Homo sapiens: one gene and its partners. The protein of the gene in region 4 interacts with the protein of the main gene of each other region in a pairwise test. Each region holds a gene or a part of one and is shown on either strand. Other genes may lie near its edges. The genes, in order: TLE2, GTF2A1L, MEIS1 and EMX2.

What was found.
Region 1: the proteins of EMX2 (region 4) and TLE2 interact in a two-hybrid assay, tested with the Homo sapiens proteins (one large-scale study listed by BioGRID and IntAct).
Region 2: the proteins of EMX2 (region 4) and GTF2A1L interact in a two-hybrid assay, tested with the Homo sapiens proteins (one large-scale study listed by BioGRID and IntAct).
Region 3: the proteins of EMX2 (region 4) and MEIS1 interact in a two-hybrid assay, tested with the Homo sapiens proteins (one large-scale study listed by BioGRID and IntAct).

The regions. Positions count from the first base shown.
Region 1 is NC_000019.10:3,020,161-3,026,280, forward strand, and holds part of TLE2 (transducin-like enhancer protein 2), read right to left. Parts: intron 4,923-6,120; coding exon 4,860-4,922; intron 1-4,859.
Region 2 is NC_000002.12:48,644,120-48,650,239, forward strand, and holds part of GTF2A1L (TFIIA-alpha and beta-like factor), read left to right. Parts: intron 1-913; coding exon 914-998; intron 999-2,333; coding exon 2,334-2,923; intron 2,924-6,120. Other genes in the region: STON1-GTF2A1L protein, read left to right, coding at 914-998, 2,334-2,923. UniProt on the Homo sapiens protein: May function as a testis specific transcription factor. Binds DNA in conjunction with GTF2A2 and TBP (the TATA-binding protein) and together with GTF2A2, allows mRNA transcription.
Region 3 is NC_000002.12:66,436,875-66,442,994, reverse strand, and holds part of MEIS1 (homeobox protein Meis1), read right to left. Parts: intron 5,259-6,120; coding exon 5,032-5,258; intron 3,909-5,031; exon of another isoform or gene 3,306-3,908; intron 3,153-3,305; coding exon 3,011-3,152; intron 2,771-3,010; exon of another isoform or gene 2,665-2,770; intron 2,434-2,664; coding exon 2,383-2,433; intron 1,582-2,382; coding exon 1,531-1,581; intron 94-1,530; coding exon 1-93. UniProt on the Homo sapiens protein: Acts as a transcriptional regulator of PAX6. Acts as a transcriptional activator of PF4 in complex with PBX1 or PBX2. Required for hematopoiesis, megakaryocyte lineage development and vascular patterning.
Region 4 is NC_000010.11:117,545,746-117,548,378, reverse strand, and holds part of EMX2 (homeobox protein EMX2), read right to left. Parts: coding exon 2,563-2,633; intron 315-2,562; coding exon 147-314; 3' UTR 1-146. UniProt on the Homo sapiens protein: Transcription factor, which in cooperation with EMX1, acts to generate the boundary between the roof and archipallium in the developing brain. May function in combination with OTX1/2 to specify cell fates in the developing central nervous system.

The DNA of each region.
Region 1 (6,120 bases), on a different chromosome or scaffold from region 4:
GGGAGGTGGAGGTTGCAGTGAGCCGAGATCGTGCCAATGCATTCCAGCCTGGGTGACAGAGCGAGACTCTGTCTCAAGAAAAAATATATATATATTACAAATCACAGTCTCTCCTTTGGAGCATCGAAGAACCAAAGACATCTGGGGCTGGATTGTTCTCTGGGGCGGGGCTGTTCCAGGCACTACAAGGAGCCGAGCAGCATCCCTGGCCTCCACCCACTCCATGCCAGGGGCACCCCCAGTTGTGACAACCACAGACGTCTCCTGGTGGTAAAACTACCCCCAAGAAAAAAAAAACACTGTGATAAATCGGCACCATGGACCCTTCTCCTAGGTTAAGGAACAGAAAGTACCAGACTCCAGGGGCCCCCTACACTCCCTGCCATCAGAACACCCTCCCTCCTCCACCTTCATGACAATAATTTCTTTGTTTTTCTGTATAATTCTGCCTCCTACGATCGCCTTCCTAAACCTGCGTGGATTTGTCCGTTTTCAACTACGTTGTGGGCTCATTCTCTGAGTTCTCTTTGGCATCTGGCCTCTCAGCATAACATTTTAAGCTTCTTCCATGATGTGGTGGGTGGCGGCAGCATATTCAGCTTTCAGAGCTGTGGGACTCTGCTGCGAGAAAATGTTATATCTGAGCCGGGCGCGGCGGCTCATGCCTGTAATCACAGCACTTTGGGAGGCCAAGGCAGGTGGATCACTTGAGGTCAGGAGTTCAAGACCAGCCTGGCCAACATGGTGAAACCCTATCTCTACTAAAAATACAAAAAAAATTAGCCAGACGTGGCGGCGGGTGCCTATAATACCAGCTACTCGTGAGGCTGACACAGGAGAATCACTTGAACCCAAGAGGCACAGGTTGCAGTGAGCCAAGATTGCACCACTGCACTCCAGCCTGGGAGACAGAGTGAGACCCAGTCTCAAAAAAAAAAAAAAAAAAAAAAAAAAGGGGGGGGGGTGCTGAGCGTGGTGACTCACACCTGTAATCCCAGCACTTTGGGAGGCTGAGGCAGGTGGATCACGAGATCAGGAGTTCGAGACCAACCTGACCAAGATGGTGAAACCCCATCTCTACTAAAAATACAAAAATTAGTCAGGCATGGTGGCATGCACCTGTAATCCCAGCTACTCGGGAGGCTGGGGCAGGAGAAACACTTGAACCCGGGAGTTAGAGATTGCAGTGAGCCAAGATCGTGCCATGCACTCCCGCCTGGGTGACAGAGCGAGACTCAGTCTCAAAAAAAAAAGAAAGAAAGAAAATGTTGTATTTTTGCTGTTCCACACAGAAGCCACTGGCCATGTGTGTGGCCACCAGGCATTTGACATGTGGCTGGTGCAACTGATGAATAGAATGATTAATTTTATTAAATTTAAGTGAATACAAGTTTAAATATAAAATAAATTTAATAGGCTTATTTTTATTTTTACTTTTTTGAGACGTAGTCTCACTCTGTTGCCCAGGCTGGAGTGCAATGGCATGCTCTTGGCTCACTGCAACCTCCGCCTCCCAGGTTCAAACAATTCTCCTGCCTCAGCCTCCCAAGTAGGTGAGATTACAGGTGCGCACCACCACACCCAACTAATTTTCATACTTTTAGTAGAGACGGGGTTTCACCATGTTGACCAGGCTGGTCTTGAACTCCTGATCTCAAGTGATTTGCCCCCCTCAGCCTCCCAAAGTGCTGGTATTACAGGTGTGAGCCACTGCGCCCAGCCTAAATATAAATTTAAATATAAAATTAACTTAATAGATTTCAGGTCGGGCGCAGTGGCTCATGCCTGTAATCCCAGTACTTTAGGATGCTGGAGTGGGAGGATTACGCTAGTCCAGGAGTTTGAGACCAGCCTGGGCAACATGGTGAGACTCCCTCTCTGTTACATTATACATATATACTTATTTAAGCCGGAGTCTCACTCTGTCGCACAGGCTGGAATGCAGTGGCGTGATCTCGGTTCACGCTAACCTCCGCCTCCCAGGTTCAAGCAATTCTCCTGCCTCAGCCTCCCGAGTAGCTGGGATTACAGGCACCTGCCACCACACCCAGCTAATTTTTGTAAAAAAAAATTTTTTTAGGCCAGGTGCGGTGGCTCACGCGTGTAATCCCAGCATTTTGGGAGGCCGAGCCAGATGGATCACCTGAGGTCAGTAGTTCAAGACCAGCCTGGCCAACATGGTGAAACCACCCCCCCACCCCATCTACAAAAATACAAAAACTAGCCGGCATGATGGTGGGTGCCTGTAATCCCAACTACTCGGGAGGCTGAGGTGGAAGAATCGCTTGAACCCAGGAGGCAGAGATTGCAGTGAGCTGAGATCGTGCCATTGCACTCCAGCCCGGGCGACAGAGCAAGACTCTGTCTCAAAAAAAAAAAAAATTTTTTTAAGGAAAAAAATAATAGATTTAAATATTATTAATAGTTAACCTAAGTGTAAATGATCACACGGGGCTGGTGACTGCCGTGTAGGATAGCGGAACAGTAGTATATTCCACTGTATGCACTCTGAGGCTGCTTGTGTATACACGCTCCTGAAGACAGACATCTGGGCTGTCTCCACCAAGGAGGTATCAGGATGCGGATACAGAGCTCCCATGGGGGTGCACCTGTGTGTGGGTGTGTGTAGGATGGGTTGGAAGACTTTCTAGAAAGGGCCAGAGAGTGAAAACATTTTCCCTCTGCAGGCCAGAGGTCTCTGTTGCAACTACCAAACTCTGTCACTGTAATGGGAAAGCTGCTGGAAATGATATGTACATGAGTGGGCGTGGCTATGTCAATAAAACTTTATTTGCAAAAACAAGTGGAGGGGTGGAGCTGGCCCTCGAGCTGCAGTTTGCTAATTCCTGGAAATGTGTGCCTTACTCATTCCTTTCAACAGTCATTTTACCTAATCTTTTTTTTTTTTTTTTGAGACAGAATCTCGCTGTGTTGCCCAGGCTGGAGTGCAATGGTGCGAACTCGGCTCACTGCAACCTCCACCCCCCGGGTTCAAGCAATTCTCCTGCCTCAGCCTCCCGAGTAGCTGGGACTAGCCCAGCTAATTTTTGTATTTTTAGTAGAAATGAGGTTTCACCATACTGGCCAGGTGGGTCTCAAACTCCTGACCTCATGACCCGCACGCCTTGGCCTCCCAAAGTGCTGGGATTACAGGCGTGAGCCACTGGGCTCGGCCTACCTAAACTTCTTGCGGCTCTTGCCTTTCTCTAGACCACCTCGTCCCCACTTTCCGCTGCAGATGCTCTTTATGTTCTGTGTCTACACAGGACCTCTCCCCACCCCAAGCTTCCAGAAATCTCAGACTCAGTGGAATCTGAACAAACTGAGCATCTCCCCTCTGGGTTTGGTCCTCAAGGCATCAAGGATCCTCCCAGTGTATCCACTCTGAAGTAGAACTATCTTTCACGTCTCTCTGAAGAGAGAACGTACCACACAGAAACAGGGACAGTGCAGGCTGGGTACAGTGGCTCACACCTGTAAACCCAACACTCGGAGCCTGACACGGGCGGATTGCTTGAGTCCGGGGGTTCGAGACCAGCCCGGGCAACATAGGGAGACCCGTCTCTACTAAAAATACAAAAATTAGCCGGGCGTGGTGGTGCACGCCTGTAATCCCAGCTACTCAGGAGGCTGAGGCATGAGAATCGCTTGCACCCAGGAGGTGGAGGTTGCAGTCAGCCAAGATCATGCCACTGCACTCCAGCCTGGGTAACAGAGCAAGAATCCATCACACACACACACACACACAAAAGAAAAGAAAAAGAAAAAAGAAACAGGGACTGTGCAAAGGTACTGAGGATGAAAGGAACCTGGGGCACTCTCAGAAGAGCTAACTTTTTTTTTTTTTTTTTTTGAGATGGAGTCTAACTCTCTCACCCAGGCTGGAGTGCAGCGGCGCAATCTCTGCTCACTGCAACCCCCGCCTCCTGAGTTCAAGCAATTCTATTCTCCTGCCTCAGCCTCCCGAGTAGCTGGGATTACAGGCAAACACCACCATGCCCGGCTAATTTTTTTTTTTAAGTTTTAGCAGAGACAGGGTTTCACCATGTTGGACAGGCTGGTCTCGAACTCCTGACCTCTGGTGATCCACCTGCCTCAGCCTCCCAAAATGCTGGGATTACAGGCAGGAGCCACCGCACCTGGCCGAATTACAGTCCATTTTAACCATTTGTAAGTGCACAGCTCAGCAGCATAAAGCACACACACGGTTGTGCAGCCATCCCCAGCACCATCTCCAGAATTTTCCCATCTTCCCAAACTGAATTTCTGTCCCCATAAAACTCTCACTCCCCGTCCCCTCCCCAACCCCTGGCACCCCCCATTCTGCTTTCTGTCTCAGTGAACCTGACGACCCTGGGACCTCCTAGGAGTGGATCACCCAGTGTTTGTCCCTCAGTGACTTCTTCTAGCAAGACGGTAGGGTTAACTTTCATCAGGTGCTGAGTAAGCGTACCCATCATCTCCAGCACCCTGGGTGTATGAGCTCATCTCAACTTCACACCTACGCTACTGAAAAAACAGAGACAAGTGTCCTGCCTGAGGCCACACAGCCAGGATTCAGACCCAGGCAGCCAACTTGCAGGGCTTGAGGGGGTCAGCTCTATGCCTTGCTTCCCATCAAGGGGGAAAACAGCCCCCAGTCCTCACCCTCAGCCAACACCTCCCTCCATCCCTGCAGCCCCTGCCCCAGCGGGATGCCTGGCCTCAGGGCTGCGGGACTACTGCAGTGAAAATGGTCTCTATCCGTGCTGCAGGCTACGCGGCAGAATCAGTGCCTGGGGCGTCCTCGCCCAGACCTACCCCCTCCCGTCTTCTTCCGGCTCCCTTCCCCTCCTCCCCCCACCCCCAGGCCCACTCACCTCCTGGGTCAGGAAGGGGATAATCTGAGCGCAGATACCGCTCAGACGCTTCACAATCTCCGCCTGGCAGGAAGCAATGAGAGGAAGCTTGGAGCGGGGTAGAGATTTGCAACCCAGCTCTGGACTCCCAGGCGGACCAGGTGTTGGCAAAGCCGAAGGGTTGGGGAGGTGACGCCCGCAGGTGCACAGAGGGAACTCAGGCTAGCATGGCATGGGCCGAGGTGGGATTCAGAGCCCCACCAGGCTGCGTGCTCAGCTGAGCGAGGCCCAGGGTGGCCTGGAGCTGGGAAGACCAGGGCTGAGGTCCTACGAGTCACAGATACACCACCCGCCAGACGCACACCCGCCAGGGATTTGCAGGAGGCAGACGCTCAGACACCCAACTCAGACGCAGACACTCAGAGGTGCTGGGCTCAGCTGAAACAAAGGAAAGGGGCCTCCGCCTGGAGTCCCAGATTCCAGCCCCGGCTTGGCCCACGTCTGTCCCAGGCAAGGCCCCTTTCTTGGTCTCCTCCGCTTCCCAGGACTGATCTACCAGCTGGGGATGCCTCCAGGTGGAGATCTCAGCACGCCACACTCAAGGGAAGGATTTCATCTGGAGAGGGTCTGGGCCCAGGTGCCCCAAAGAGGCTGAGCAGACGAGAAGGCGTGTGGGTGGGGAAGGGGGCGGGCATACAATGGCCACGGACTTTGCCTCTGCCTGAGTTACAGGTGTGCTGTGTGTCTGGCGAAGTCTGTGTCTCCTATTCCCACCAGGAGGGTGGAACTGGGATCCCAGGGTGTCCCGCACCCCATAAAGGGGGGTCTATTGCGTGGACCCATGGGACCACGCCATGCTTCAGCAGACAAGCCCCCTCCTGCCCACATCAGAACCAACAGAACCCCCACACATGCAGGAAAGCATGCCAGGGTGGGCAACCCCAGGCACCCCACACTCCCAGCCCACCCCCTTCTCCTTCCCAGCCACCGGGAAGTCCCAATACAAGGTTCTGCTCATTGATTCTAATATTCTGATAGAATCTAGGAGCCCATGAAGCTCAGAAGTTTGGGACCCCTCTCATCCCTTTAGAAACCACTGGCCAGTCTCAGGATCTCAGGATTAAGCATGGACCACTAAAGTCAATTTTAGAATCTTTGGGTCTATTGGCCGGGCAAGGTGGCTCACTCCTGTAATCCCAGCACTTTGGGAGGCCGAGGCAGGTGGATCACCTGAGGTCAGGAGTTCAAGACCAGCCTGGCCAACATGGAGAAACCCCGTCTC
Region 2 (6,120 bases), on a different chromosome or scaffold from region 4:
ATGATTGCACCACTGCTCTTCAGCCTGGGCAACAGAATGAAACCCTGTCTCTTAAAAATAAAAATGCAAAACATTTATAAATAAAATAAAGAGTTCTGTAGTCTTATACTCCAAGAATAAATGTTTTAACTCTTTGATGTTTATTCATCCAGACTTCTTTCATGAAAGCTATATTAGTTTTTAGGATAAAAAGTAGGGATACTCTTTTTACTGTTTCTGTAATTTCTGTTTTCTAATTTAGTAATATAGATGGACTGCTTTCAATTTCAGTTAGTACAAATTGACCTTCGTGGATGCAGCACAGTTTAATTAACAAACTTTTGTTGGTGAACATTTAAATTATTTCCAGCATTTTTCTAATATAGTATTCTATTGATTATGCTTGTGTATATGTCTGTGTGTTTCTGTGATAATCAGGATAAATTTCTAAAAGTAGAGTTCATGGGTCAAAGGTCATTTGTATTTTCATTTTTGGTATATATATTGCAAAAATTATCCTCCAAAAGGGTTGTACCAATATACATTCATACAAACAGTAGTTTGAGAGAACCAATTTTTATCACATTCTCAACAACACTGGATGTTATCAGTCTTTCAAATTTTTGCAGGTCTGAGAACCAATGGCCCTGCAAAGCTATGTCTTGGGCAAGTTTTTTGAGTTAATGTTTATACTGTTCATTAGGACTTACTAGCTTCATTGCTAATAACTGTAGAATAGGATTCCTCTTGATCCTTAATGGGATGATCGATATTGAAAACTATTTTATTCAAAGAACTCAGCCCTAATATTAAATGTTAAGTATTGTCAAACTATTGTCCAGAATCAGATTTTTTGACTCCCTGTGAGATCAGGGAAAAAAAGATACAAGTAAAGTCCTTTTCTAACTTTCTAATATAAATTTCTTATATCTAGGGCACTTCAAACTCCAGTGCAAACTTTACTTTTCCTGGTTATCCCATTCATGTACCAGCAGGTGTGACACTACAGACTGTATCTGGTGAGAGTATATTCTAAGAATCTTTTTGTTTTCAGCATTGGTACTATTTTTTGGACATTAAGCTTCATGATTTTTAAATAAACTATATACCAGAAGTTATAAGAACTTTTAATAAAATTGATTTTAAAAGTAATGATAAATGGTGGTTTTGATTGTTATAGAGACAATCTACCACAAAAGGCACTGTACTAGGCCTGTCCTATATTTGATTCCCAGTTCTCTTTCCCAACATTGTATAGGGGTTCTTTGTATATATTTTTTCTAATTCAAGTCAGTTATCTAAATTTTAACAAATACAAAATAAAATAACTTACCTGCATTCCTGCTAGCTCTAATTACGGATTAAAGATTAGGATGATCAACCTTTGCCCCCTTTCTTATTAGGGATTGCATGGTCTGATAGGACATCCAATAGTTTGGAGGTTAACCGGTTTCTGCTTTTCCGAGCACCATCTCTTGATTTTGAAGAGGATCATACCTCTTCTTTGGGTTGTTGTAAAGTTTAAGTAAAGCACCTAACTCAACACTCAAAAATAAGTCCTTTTTTTTGAGATGGAGTCTCGCTCTGTCGCCCACGCTGTAGTGCAGTGGCGCAATCTCTGCTCACTGCAAGCTCCGCCTCCTGGGTTCACGCCATTCTCCTGCCTCAGCCTCCCAAGTAGCTGGGACTACAGGCGCCGGCCACCACGCCCGGCTAATTTTTTGTATTTTTAGTAGAGACAGGGTTTCACCGTTTTAGCCAGGAGGGTCTTGATCTCCTGACCTCGTGATCCACCTGCCTTGGCCTCCCAAAGTGCTGGGATTACAGGCATGAGCCACCGCGCCTGGCCTTTTTTTTTTTTTCTTTTATAGTGTTATTTTAGAGGAAGAAAGGAGAAGAAATTTGATTACTTTTGAAATCATTAAACTCTCTTTTGGATAGCATTGTCTTGCTATATGGCATTTTAAATATATGAAGTATATTTTACATGATTATGTTTGTTAAAATCCAGTTTTTTGGCTGATAACATTAATTTATCAAACAATGGAAGAGGTTCATGGATTAAATATTGGTGTCCTTTATGTATCTCAAAGTGTGCCATAAAAGCAATTGTGGGAAAAGTCTGGAATTAAAGCAAAACATATGTAATTAAAAAAATAAGAATTTATATATTGATTGTAGAAATCCAAAAATGTCTGAAGAATAAAAGAAAAACCCCTAGAGATAACCACCATTAACATATTGGTGTATTTTTTTCCAGCCTTTGTGGATGAGATTTTTTTTTTTTTTTGTGGTGGTTGTCAAAGGAAATTTTAATTCTATTATACTTACAATTTTGCTTTCTCCTTTTTAAGGTCACCTTTATAAAGTCAATGTACCAATTATGGTGACAGAGACTTCTGGAAGAGCAGGTATTCTTCAGCATCCAATTCAGCAAGTATTTCAACAGCTTGGCCAGCCTTCAGTAATACAAACTAGTGTTCCACAATTGAATCCATGGTCTCTTCAAGCAACTACTGAAAAATCACAGAGAATTGAAACCGTGCTACAGCAACCCGCAATTCTACCTTCTGGGCCAGTAGATAGGAAACACTTAGAAAATGCCACCAGTGATATACTTGTATCTCCTGGAAATGAGCATAAAATCGTGCCTGAAGCTTTGTTGTGTCATCAGGAAAGTTCTCACTATATCAGTCTTCCAGGTGTTGTATTTTCTCCACAGGTCTCTCAAACAAATTCTAATGTGGAGTCAGTGCTCAGTGGTTCAGCTAGCATGGCTCAAAATCTGCATGATGAGTCCCTCTCCACAAGCCCTCATGGGGCTCTCCACCAGCACGTGACTGATATTCAGCTTCATATTCTTAAAAATAGGATGTATGGATGTGATTCTGTAAAGCAACCAAGAAATATAGAGGAACCCAGCAACATACCTGTATCAGAGAAGGTATAGTTCTGTGTCCAACTTCTTGGTATCAGGGGACAGATAGTGGCCAGTAACTGGATATCCTGAATATTTTCAAGCTGTAATGTTAATCAGAATTATATATATTTTGTTTTTTTCTTTAGAAGATTATTTCTTTTTTCTAGTGATTTAAAAAAATTTTTAATTGTGATAAAATACACGTAACATAAAGTTTACCAACTTAACCATTTTTAAGTGTACAGATCAGTAGTGTTATATACATTCACATGTGGTACAACCAAGAAGATTCTTTCTTTATTGTTGTTTTTAGTATAACTGTCAGTCCTTGAAATATTCATGCTTAGCATTTCTAAATTTTTCATTTCAATAAATGAATTATAATACTTCTTCAGAGAAAATGCGTTTGTTTTAAAAGGTAATCTGTTTACCAGTCTCTTATACTGGGAAACTTATTTTATGTCTGCAGATAAAAATTAAAAGACCCAGAAATCCAGACCAGTAGTTTGTGGAATGTTTTGAGATAATTAATTATCAAATGTAATATACAAAAGAAGCCCACAAAGTTTTTTTTTTCCTGCTCTACCTAATTTTTCTGAATTCCTATATGGAAACTTTTCCCTACATGAGGGATTATGTTGCTAGTAATTTTGTTTCTCCCTGCCTACTAAAATACTAGTTTTACTTAATTTCTTTTGGTATTGAAACCACTAAAAATTAGCTTCTAGTTAACTTTTGATATTGAAAATAGGTCTGAATTTTTAATTTTCAAGGAATTCATAGTAATGGCAGAAAGACTCATGGAGAATTTTGGATTATAAAAATTAAAAAAATTGCATTCTTTTTACAAATATAAAATACATCTTGTGGCTAATTCTATTTACACAATTTAGGACATGTGAAAAATACTTAAAGGTTTTTGCTCCAGCTAGTGGTTTAGCCATCATCTAGACCCACTGTACAAATCTGTAGCAATGGATAGTTAAGCACAACCTTAATATTTTATCTTCATGATATTTAAATTTTGCTAGTTAGGGAAAGACATAGGGCATAGTGAAAGGCCAGGAACAAAGAAAATGACAATCAGAAACTATTTGGCCTGTTTTAGAATGTTTCAGATATTTATTGAAACCTGTTCAAGATCTCTGAGCAAATCTGTTTTTAGTTTTTCTATAAGTGTTCATATTAAAATGTTTTATTGAGGTTTTTTTTACGTTTTTTAACATAACATATAACACTTAGTAAATAAATGTAGGTTAAACTAATAAGTATGAAACATTTGATTTTGAGGTAAAACTAACTACAAATGTAAAATGTTTGTTTTCATCACTACTACTTTTGGAGGCACTTTTTACCTGGATTCTGTGTGAATTTTGCAGATGTTTGGTGTGATGAGTCAAGGACTTATTCTACTGTTATGTATTGTATGTCATCATGTACTTTTTCTGATATGGGGAAATAGATTAGTTAAGGGATATTAATCAAGGATTGATTGGGGGTAGTGGTTGAGAACATAAGCTTTGGAACCACAGTAGGTTCAAATTCTAGGTTCACTACTTGCAAGCAAACTATATAACATTACTCCCTGAAATTCAATTTTAGTCTTTAAATTGGCCCCTAATACCAATCTTGTAATTTTGAGAATTATCAGAGATAATATATATGAAGTATTTAAAGCTTCTGGCACCATAGTAAGCTTTAGATTAGTGCTATTATGCTCTATGAGCTTGTAATATATTGGGTAACTTTTCATGTAACTTGTTTGTTAGTTTTAAAAAAGGTCTATGTCTAACACACAAAATCCAAACGTACAAGAGTATATGTAAAATGCTTATTTATTTATTGTAAGTTACCTTTAAGATAGTAAGCAGTTTGGTAGGTTTATGCTGAACTAATTTTCAAAGACTTTACAAGTAGTTTTTCTTTTTATAAGTAACTTAAAGCAAGTTATAATCAACTATACTTGTTTACTTTTCCTGTGTTGTAAACTACTGGAGAGCTTATGGATCTATAGGTTTAAGAGGTAAGGATCTATGTTGTTTGAACATTCTGTTTCACAAAATATATTCTTGATAGCTTTTAATTCTGCCCCTTGTAATTTCTGTTCTATTTTCTTTGTCTGAATTTGACTCTTCTAGGTACTTTAAAAATGGAATCATACAATATTTGCCCTTTTGTGACTGTCTTATTTCACTTAGTATAATGTTTTCAAGGTTAGTCGATATCGTAGCATGTGTCAGAATTTCATTCCTTTTTAAGGCTGAATCATGTGAGTTTGACAATTTTTAAATTTTGTAAATATTCCTGGAATCTGTTCCTTCATCTCCACTCCTAGTGCCATTGCCCTAATTGTTTCTCATGTGGGATAATTTTATCTAACTAATTTATCAGTGTGTAGTCTCTTCTACCTCTTACTCTGCTCCTGCCAATCCATCCATCCTAGAGGTCAAAGGCCTAAGCTTCAGGGATCAGAATTGTTTTGAATCCCTTCTCTATTCCTTAATAATTGTATGACTTAGAGAAGTTACTCATTTGTAAAATAAAGATAATAGTATCTACCATGTAATTGTGGTAGGATTAGTTAAGAAAATTAATGTAAAGTGCTCAGCAGCACACTGGCACCGTGGTAAATGCTCAGTGCATGTTAGCACTCTCTTCCTGGTGGCTTCCAGAGATCTGTCCCAAATGCAGCCTGGTTGTGTCTTTTCTCCACTTAACACATCACCGACTGCCCTTCACCTATAATAAATAAACTTCAGGCACCTTAATATACATATACAAAGCATATTACGCGTTCTTTCTCTGCCAAAGTTTCCTATTTACTCTTCCTTCCTCACATGAATATACTTTACTGGGAACACCAAACCGTGAGTGATTCTTGGTTTTCAACCTTGTTATTTCCTACTTCTCTTTTTGCTTTTTGTTATCCCCTCTATTTGATGCCTGGAGTTTCTTCCCACCATCCTTTCCTCTGGTTAATTCCTGCTTATTCATTACTTCCTCCAGAAATCTTCAGTACTTCTCCACCTAATTTTTCCTTCATTATTAAATTGGATGTAGCTCTTCTGTTTTGTCACCTGAAGTATGTCTGTCATAATGTAGTTCAAAGATACATTGATATGTTCTCTTTGCATTGACAGTTACATTTATCTTTGTATATGCAGTAATCTAAGAATATATACACACTCGTGTGTAGTGGAGTATAAGCTTTTAAGGATAGG
Region 3 (6,120 bases), on a different chromosome or scaffold from region 4:
TCCTTCTCTATCGTCTATCACCAAATCGATAGGCATTTTCCCTTTCAAACAGCTAATATACCGGTGGCAGAAATTGTCACATAATTCGTGTACCTACATTATGACAGAAATAAAAAAATGGGAATATAATCAGGAGTGCATAAATGACATTGACAAGTGCAATCCACCCCCCTTGTGAGATCCAAACTTCCAAATAGGGGAAACACAGGGCAATTGTCCTCCAGAGACCCCCAGACGCATCCAGAATTAGGAATAACTTTCTTTTCTTGCAAAATAGAGATATCCCAGAAAATTGACAGTGACAAGATGATTCACAGGCTACAACATATTCAACACCCGTGTTAAATTCATCTGCTCCTGGGGCTGTGGTCATTAGAGAGGTGACCTGCGTAGGTGACATTTAAGGTAAACTATTTAATTTCATCCAGTGACTTTATCATAAATCCCTTTCTAATGTGTCTAAGAAAAAAATGTATACGTGTGTATATATGCACATATATATTCTCCAAAGAACCTGTACTGTGGTGGCATAGGATAAATGCCTGACAACCCAAGTCCTTATTATATTTGTAATGAAGGTTTTTATCTCTAAGGGGTATATTTTAGAAAACTTTCTTTGAAAAAAAAATGGAAGGAAATCAAGTTGCCAGTACTCCTGATATGGGAAAACATACAGCCACACAAAAACATATCAAATTGATTTTTTTTTTTTTTTTTTTTTTTTACAAAAAGGAGAAGGAATGCCTCAAAATATTTAAGTGTAAGTGCAGAGGTTTCCTAGAGGTCCCAGGCATCACTGACATGCAAAAATTCACAAGAAACCCCAGTGTGCTTGCAATTTAATGTTAGTTTGAATTACAATGCATTAAGTTTTTATTGCTGAGATTTATAGAACAGCTAGCAAAATCATGTTATCCCACACCCTTTCTTGAGTGTGAAGGTGGAGTGTGTGCAGGATTCACAGATTCAAGAAATTGACACAACTATCAACTCTGCTTTGTCTCTGCAAAACGTTTAATGTGCCTCCCCACCACCTCCTCCAGACTCCTTCCCGCTCCTCCTCCTTCTCCCCTTCTGCCTCTCCCCTGTGTCTGATCTGCCCTTGCTCTCAAGACTGTCTTCCAGAAACTCACTACAACTGAATAAAACTTTTTTCTCCCTCAGAGGTAGCAAAGAAGAGAAGGAAGAGGATGAGAAGAGACAACAGAGGTATGAACTTGTGAAACAACCTCAGAGCAGCATTCGAAACATCAGCTGGGATGCACAGAATTGCAACTATTTACACAAAGCCAGCAAGTTATTAAGAATGAACACAAGGCTAGGGCGTTTGTGATCCCAGTTTTAGTGGCTGAAATTGTAATTAAACTGCGAAGAGAAATGGACGCTAAGATTGGCCTTGACACTAATTACCAGAAAGAAAGACATTTATGCAAATGTATCAGAAGGCTGAACTTCAGCCATTCGGAACCCTCCCCCCTGTGTGTTTGGGGGTAAGGGGTAAGTAAAAGGAAAAGAGGCTAGAGAAATTACCTTCTCTAATTCCAATAGATGAAACCTTAATACTTGTATGGCTTGAATCATCTGCAAAGATACAAAAACAATAAGCACCCCATTCCTGGCTTGCAGAAAACTGGCTGCCACAGCTCTACCATCTCCAGCCCACCCCCTCCCACCAGTAAATAGAGTTATTTTGATTTATGGCAATAACACTAAAACTTAATAGCAGCAACTGGGTACCATCTAGAGGTTTATATTTCTTAAGAAAAAAAAAACTAGCTAAAACAACAACACAGCATCTAAGTGAGGATCATAAACACTCTCCTCCCCCATGGCTCTCCCCTTTCTCAGTCCCACTGGCCCCACCCCACCCCAAAAGGGCCACAACACTGGACTACATGTGTCCTTGGAAGGAGTGGACAGAAAAATATTCCAAATGGCCCTCAAACTGTGGCTTTTCCCATTGCAAAGTTTCTGCTGCCTTCCTTACACCTTTCAGGCAAACTGGTTGTTTGGGGGCTCTTGTCCGGTGGCTGCCCTCGTGATGGGACTTAGAGGGCTAGGAAGTCCGCAAAGTTTAAGCACACATGCTGACAGGCCGGGAGATAAATCCCCGCGCTGATTAGAGCTGCGCAGCCCGGCTGTCATAAAAAACAAAAGCTCGCGTTTCCCCGCGCTGGCTCGCCCGGCCCCTCTCGAGATGAATTTATTTCCCCGGGATCTTGTCCCGGACCAGTTGTCCGTGTACAGAAACATTTGCAGCCAACCTGCAGGCACGGGAAGACCGGTCTAGAAATCTCAGGGCTCTCAAAGCAAAGCTGAGGGCGTTGGAGGTGGGAGGTAGGGGGTCGGGGGCGGGGGAGGGAAATAGGGGTCCGCTCTTACCAAGTTATCCAGTTCTGGATTAGAAGAAAATAGAGGTTTTTCTGCGCGAATCTAAATACAAGTGAGAAGGAGAGGGGAGAGGGAGGGGAGAGAAAAAAGAAAGAAAAATTTGAAATCTGGTCGCCTTCCTAGTTTCTTGCCTCATTACACTGTCGGGGGCAGGAAGTAACCCTCCGGGAGGGACCCGGTGACACCGAGTTCGTCCCGCGCAGAAACATTTCAGTGTGAATTAAATAAGCTGAAAACAAGCCCAGAGCTCAATCTTACTTCTACTAGCAACTACGGCTCTCGGGGAGGCTGCTCAGACCGCCGAGTCCACAGCAGCTACAACCGTGGTGTTCTTGATTTTATTCTGCAGAGTGAGCTCTCCACGTTTGCTTTCTGGAGGGTGAGTGGGGATGCAGATGGGTGATTTTAAGTTATCTGCAAACAGACACTCAGACAGAGAGAAAATCTGAGGTTGGAGGTAACATGCATGGCTTAAGGCCGACTACGTGCTGGCTACTTTTGAAAGTGTGCCGTGTGTGTGTGTGTGTGTGTGTGTTCGCGCGCGCGCGCGCGCGTGTGTGTTGGCGAAGGGGGGGCTCTCTTTTTGTTTCTTTTACTTTTTAACATCTATTTTGCTGACCTGTTTGGCGAACACGGCTATATCTTCATTGAATGACTCTGACGAGCAGACGTCCCCGCCCGCCACCCCCGGCTCGCGGGGGGTACAAGTAGCTAATTCACATTTCTCAAAAATCAGTGCTAAGAGAGGGAAGAGGGGGTGTCTGCAAGAAAATACAACAGTCACAAACAACATAATGGTTAGTCCCCAGTCAATGGAAAAAGGTGCCCAAGAAAAACAGCTGGAGGAGCAAGAGGAACAGACCCCCTCTCCGATTGTGTCATCTACTTTTTTCCTTTTCCTCCCCCTCCCCCAGACCCAGGTGACCGCTCACCTCCCCTTCCTCCTGGAGCCCTGAAGTCGGAGGCCCTGAGCCATGGACGGTATCTGAGGATCGGTTTAGCGTATCTGGCCGGAGAAATTGGCAACATTTGCTACGAATAAAACCCAAGCGTTTCCAGCAGCCATTTTGAATTAAGTTTCCCACCCGACAAGCCCTCGTCCCCTCCACTGCACATCCAGGATCCGGTGGAGGAGAAAGGCGCCGGGCGGAGAGTTGGGGAGGGCTGGTTCCTGCGGGTTCCTCCTAGGCGGCCGCGCGAAGCCCAGGCTCGGGGGATCTCGGTGGCAGGCGCTCAGCTAACTTGGGGAAAGGACGTCCATGGCCGTGGGGCCGACTGTCAACGGGCTGCACCTAGGGATCCCAACCCCAAGGCCCTCGGAGAGCCGGGAGGCTCCTCCTCAGCTCCACGCACATTCCCCTCCCTTCGCTGATAGCCCCCACCGCCCCCCAAAGAAAGTTCCTTCAAATGTTCCTGCAGTAGAGCCTTTCATTTTGTCTCTGCGAAGTGGCAAAGCAGCTAGTATTGCGAGGGGCCTAGATGTCGCTTGTCTCAGCCCATAAAAAAGAAAAAAAAAAAAAAAAGAAGAAGAAGAAGAAAGAAAGAAAAGCTTCTTCTAATGCCCAAGGAGGTATCTCAAGTCTTTTATTAGCTCTCACAGCTCAGCTGGGAATTTAACAGTTTGGGGTCCTTTACAAAGCTTCCCCAAATGTTCTGTCCCAGAGCCTAAACCACTTGTAGTTAACTCTGCGGACAGAACGGTGGGAATTAAACAAGCCCATCGCACAAGGGATCAGAAAATAAAATAAAAAGATTATATATATTTTTTTTTCCAGCGAGGGAGGGTCAGTGTGTCCTGATTTTTTAAAAATAAATAAATAGAAATAAAAGTTTCTGCAAAGTAAAAAGAGGTTCCCAAATTCATCGGCACACAGTAGGCACAAGTGAGTTTCAAAGGATTCTACTAGCCCAGGGTCTAATCGAATGGCGGAGGAGAAAGCAGTATAAACCGCAGCCAGAAAACAACCTCCGAGGAAGAGCACCCCGAATTTACTTATTTCTAAATCCTGCAGGTTTCGCCTTTGAGCACAAAGTGCTAAAACATCTAGAAGTTTCTTAATGTGTGTAACAATTCAGAGCAAGCTCCTCTCCTTGACTTCAGTGGTCAAACTCCCTAAATGCAAAACATGTTCCCCCTTGCTTGACCTGCAACTGTCCTGCTTTGGTTTTATTGTGCAGTGGCAGAGCCAGCATAAGGCTGCTGAGTAAACTCAGCAAGTCAGAACAATCAGTGGCTTAAAAGAGATTTTCCCTTAAACTAAAAGTTTCGTTACAACACAAAGGCGCCTGCATTTAGAAACCCCTAACGCTCTCGGGCGAAATCGAGCGAGGGAGGACTCCAGCCCGCTGAAGGAGTCTGAGAGGGGACAAGGGCCCTTTAGCCAGCTTCTTCTCATCTGGGACCCCCTTGCGGGCACTGCCATGGTGGAGCAGGGCACTGGATGTGCACAGAGTGTGTATGGGGATGTAGGGCTTCAGGGATGGCAGGCCACCTCCCCAAATTATCCATGAAATGTGAATGAAAAGTCACCAAAGATGTACCTCCAATCCAGAGAACTCTGACTTTCCTCTTACCAAGGGCACAGAGAAAGAGGGAAGCGTTGAGTCTCAACTACTTAACCTGCTGCCCATTGTACCTACCCATAAATGGCATCTTTATCTCTCTTTAAAGCGTCATTGACAGAGGAGCCCATGCTGGGGGCCATGGCGTTGGTATGAGCTGTGTGCGGGTACTGATGCGAGTGCAGAGGAGGCCCGTGGTTCAGGTGGTGGACCGGCTGCATGGACCTGGCTGCATGCGGGTCCCCATACATCGTGGAGGGGATGCCTACTCCATCCATGCCCCCGTAATGGGGTAGATCGTCGTACTGCATGACAAACAGGAGAGAAAGAAGGTTCAGGAGGCCAGGCGGGCAAATGGGAGAACGGCAAGGCACCGAGCTTATATAAGGTCAATACAGCTGGGTCCTTCCACCCGGAATTCGGTGGCCTTGCATCTATAAAGCTGAGTTTTTCTTATTTTAAAATTAAAGCTTTAAGTAAAAAATACAGAATTCTCAGCGAGACTCGTCTGGGATGAATGATCTTGCCCTAACTTGTGTCCCTATCAACTAGTTTAGAAATTCAGGCTCCTTTGGCAAGAAGGAAAGAAGAAAGAAAGAGAGAAAGAGAAGCATTCTCCCGAGGGTAGAAGGTGAAACGGGCATGTCTCTGGAGGAAGAAATTCAAAATCACAATAATAAAACGTGCCAGGACACTGCAGCAAACCCGCCTAGTTTCACAGCCCCTTCACATCAGGGGGAATTAAAAAAAAAAAAAAAAGTTACGATGGGAACAGCTACGCAAAGCACGTGAATTTAGACAGGCTTCTCATTTTATTTCCCTGCCAGCGTGAGGTTAGGCAGTCCTACAAGACACTGCATTTCTTTTGCTTTCCAAGACAAACTCTGCTAAATTATACAAAACTAACTGACCCCTTATAAGTGAAACTCAAAGGAGGGTAGCTTTTCCTGAACATCAGAGCTGAATTTAGAATTGGGCAATTCCCCACCCCCAAAGTTAAAGAAAATCTATAGTTGAAGCAGCTAATATTCTATTTTCTTATTTACTCTTATGAACTTTGTTTCCAGACTAGAAGTCAAGGAGGCAAATGTTACTCACCAGGTTTAAAGCAAATTCAAAAGCAAATGCACAACTTTCCATCTTCCTCTTCCAGAAAAAAAAAAAAAA
Region 4 (2,633 bases):
ATTCCGCTGCTCCCTCCGATTCCCTCTCCCTTTCTCGGTGAACGTGTATGCGGTTTGTTTTTGTTTTGTAGGGTTTTTTCCTTCTCCACCTCTCCCTGTCTCTTTTGCTCCATGTTGTCCGTTTCTGTGGGGTTAGGTTTATGTTTTTAATCATCTGAGGTCACGTCTATTTCCTCCGGACTCGCCTGCTTGGTGGCGATTCTCCACCGGTTAATATGGTGCGTCCCTTTTTTCTTTTGTTGCGAATCTGAGCCTTCTTCCTCCAGCTTCTGCCTTTTGAACTTTGTTCTTCGGTTCTGAAACCATACTTTTACCTGCGGGTGAGAGGCAGATGGGGTGCGTTAGTTCTTTCAGAGCACCCTTCTATCAAGTGCCTGATCCTTTCACCCAGCCCAGACTCCAGTTCCAGACTCAGCAAAGACCCAGCCCCCGAGATGCAAGTCCTAAGGTCCAGCCTCCCCAAGGCCTGCCCTCAGGGAGCAGGGCCGCTAGTGCGTGGTGGAACAGAAGCCCAGCTCCCTGCCCTTCTGAGGCTTCCTGAAGAGCCTTTCCCCAGGGCCCTGTGGCCCGGAGTGCACTGAGCCCCATCTCTCCTGGCCCTGCAGAGGGCATCTATATCCCGCTGAGAGCAAAGCCTTGCAAAGCATGGGAAGCCCCTACAAAAATAATAAGTGATTAAAAGAAAAAGAGACATGTCCCTAACTCCCTCCAGCAAGCGAGTGCAAGAGAGACCTCAGTCCGCCGCTGCTGCAGCTCCCCTCAGGGCCCAATGTGCTTTCTATTTTCTGCTGGTCTGGGCGGCGTTTCCTAAATATAGCGTCTCCTCTTCGTGGCGGGGGCCCTGGGTAGGCGATCAGGGTTTGCCTGAGCTGCATCCTCCGTGCGGGGGACTCTCACAGGTGAGCAGGAAGGGGATGGGGCTGGAGGAGGCCAGGAGGGACATGGAGTGTGTAGGCCTCCAGACCAACCCAGCTGTACCTTTATAGCTAGGAAAATGAGTTCAAAACTGAAAGCTTCTGAAAGACCGTGGGTTACACGGAAAGTAAGAGAAACTAAGAGAAGGGGAGGTGACAGCAAGCCCCCTCTTCCCTCCTTCTAAACAGCCCCGGAACAGGCTGCTGGTCACACAACCTCGGACCCCAGTCCCATCACTTCCCACCAGGGTGGGGCTGGAGGCCCGGCCTCACCAGAGCGGCTGTGAGAGGTCTCAGGAGCAATGAGGTGGGAGTCGGCTGCCATCCCACGGCCCCCTAGGAAAGCTGAGTCGTGGGTCCTCATTTAGCCACCAGACAGTAACACAGTCCAATCTTCACAGCAGTGGTGTACAGGTAAGGGAGATGGCAGTGACTGCACCTCTGATACCCTCCCCCCACAACTCCTATTCTATCTGGATAAGAGTACCCCACAGCCCAGTGCCAGTCCCTGGACCCCTGGGATCCATTCCATTCCCTCCTTTGAGGCCGCAGGCCGGTCCGTCTTGCTCTCCCGGAAAGCCACAGTCGCCCAAAGTGCTCCATGAAAAAAGCTGAGCGGGAACAAGGCTGAATTTAATTTGCTTTGAGTTTGCTAATTGAGGGGGAGGACGGTTCATTTCTCCCCGGCGCTGGCCCAAGGCGCGCGTCGGTGCGCTCGGGGCTTGACACGCACACAAAGACTCCAGGCAGCGTGGGCAGCGAGGCGGACAAAGACCACCGCCGCCTCGGCTGTCCAGGAGAAATCAGCCGGGCCGCGCCTTGTGCCGGGCTCCGCACAAACCCGCCAGGCCCTCCTCGGTTTTGGGGTGGGGAACATGTTTTAAAACAAAAGCCTCGACCTTTCTGAGCTGCCCAGGAAAAGTGTTACAACTTAGTCTGCCCAAAAAAACGTTACTGTTTGCTGGGAACTTTGACCCCGCCCTGCGGCTCCGTGTACAGTAGCGCCTAGTGTAGTCCTAAACCCCCTCCCCACCCTGGGATAAACCCAAGCCAGGCCCGCCCAGGGACCCTGCTGTGCAGAAGGCCTGTGCCCTGAGGCAGACCCTCTCTGCAGCCTCCCAACTTTACTTCTCTGATATAGGGTACACACAGGACGCTTGCCCTCTACCTTCCCATCGCCCATCTCCTTCAGGGAAGTCACTGGAGCCGACGGTGTGAGCCGTGGGCTCACAGTCGCTCAGAACTCATCTTTAACCCACATCCTGTCCTTACCAGCCTCCAGCTCCAAACACCCAGAAACCCCACTGTGCTCTCCCTCTTCCTGGACCCCAGCAGGGGTCTTCACACTCTCATCAAAAGTCTCACCAGAAATGCAGGGATGTCTTAGCCAGGACATGCCCAACTGGACAGAGAAACAACTCGGCGCGTTTCCCCAGAACCTGGGGCAGATTGGCACTTACAGCCCCTTTCTGGAGCCCAACAAAGCCAGCACCTTGAGACATACATCCCGAGCCCAGGCGTGGAACCAGCTACCAGGACCTGTGCGGAAGGCCCTCACAGAGCTCCGTGCTCATGGGTGTGCTTGGGAGCCAGCTTTGGGGAGGGGGCGCACGCCTAGATGGGTTCCTCGCGCCCGGGCCGCAGTCACCTGAGTTTCCGTGAGGCTGAGGCTGTGTGCCAGCTGCTTCCTTTCGGCGCCCACCACGTAGTGATTCTTCT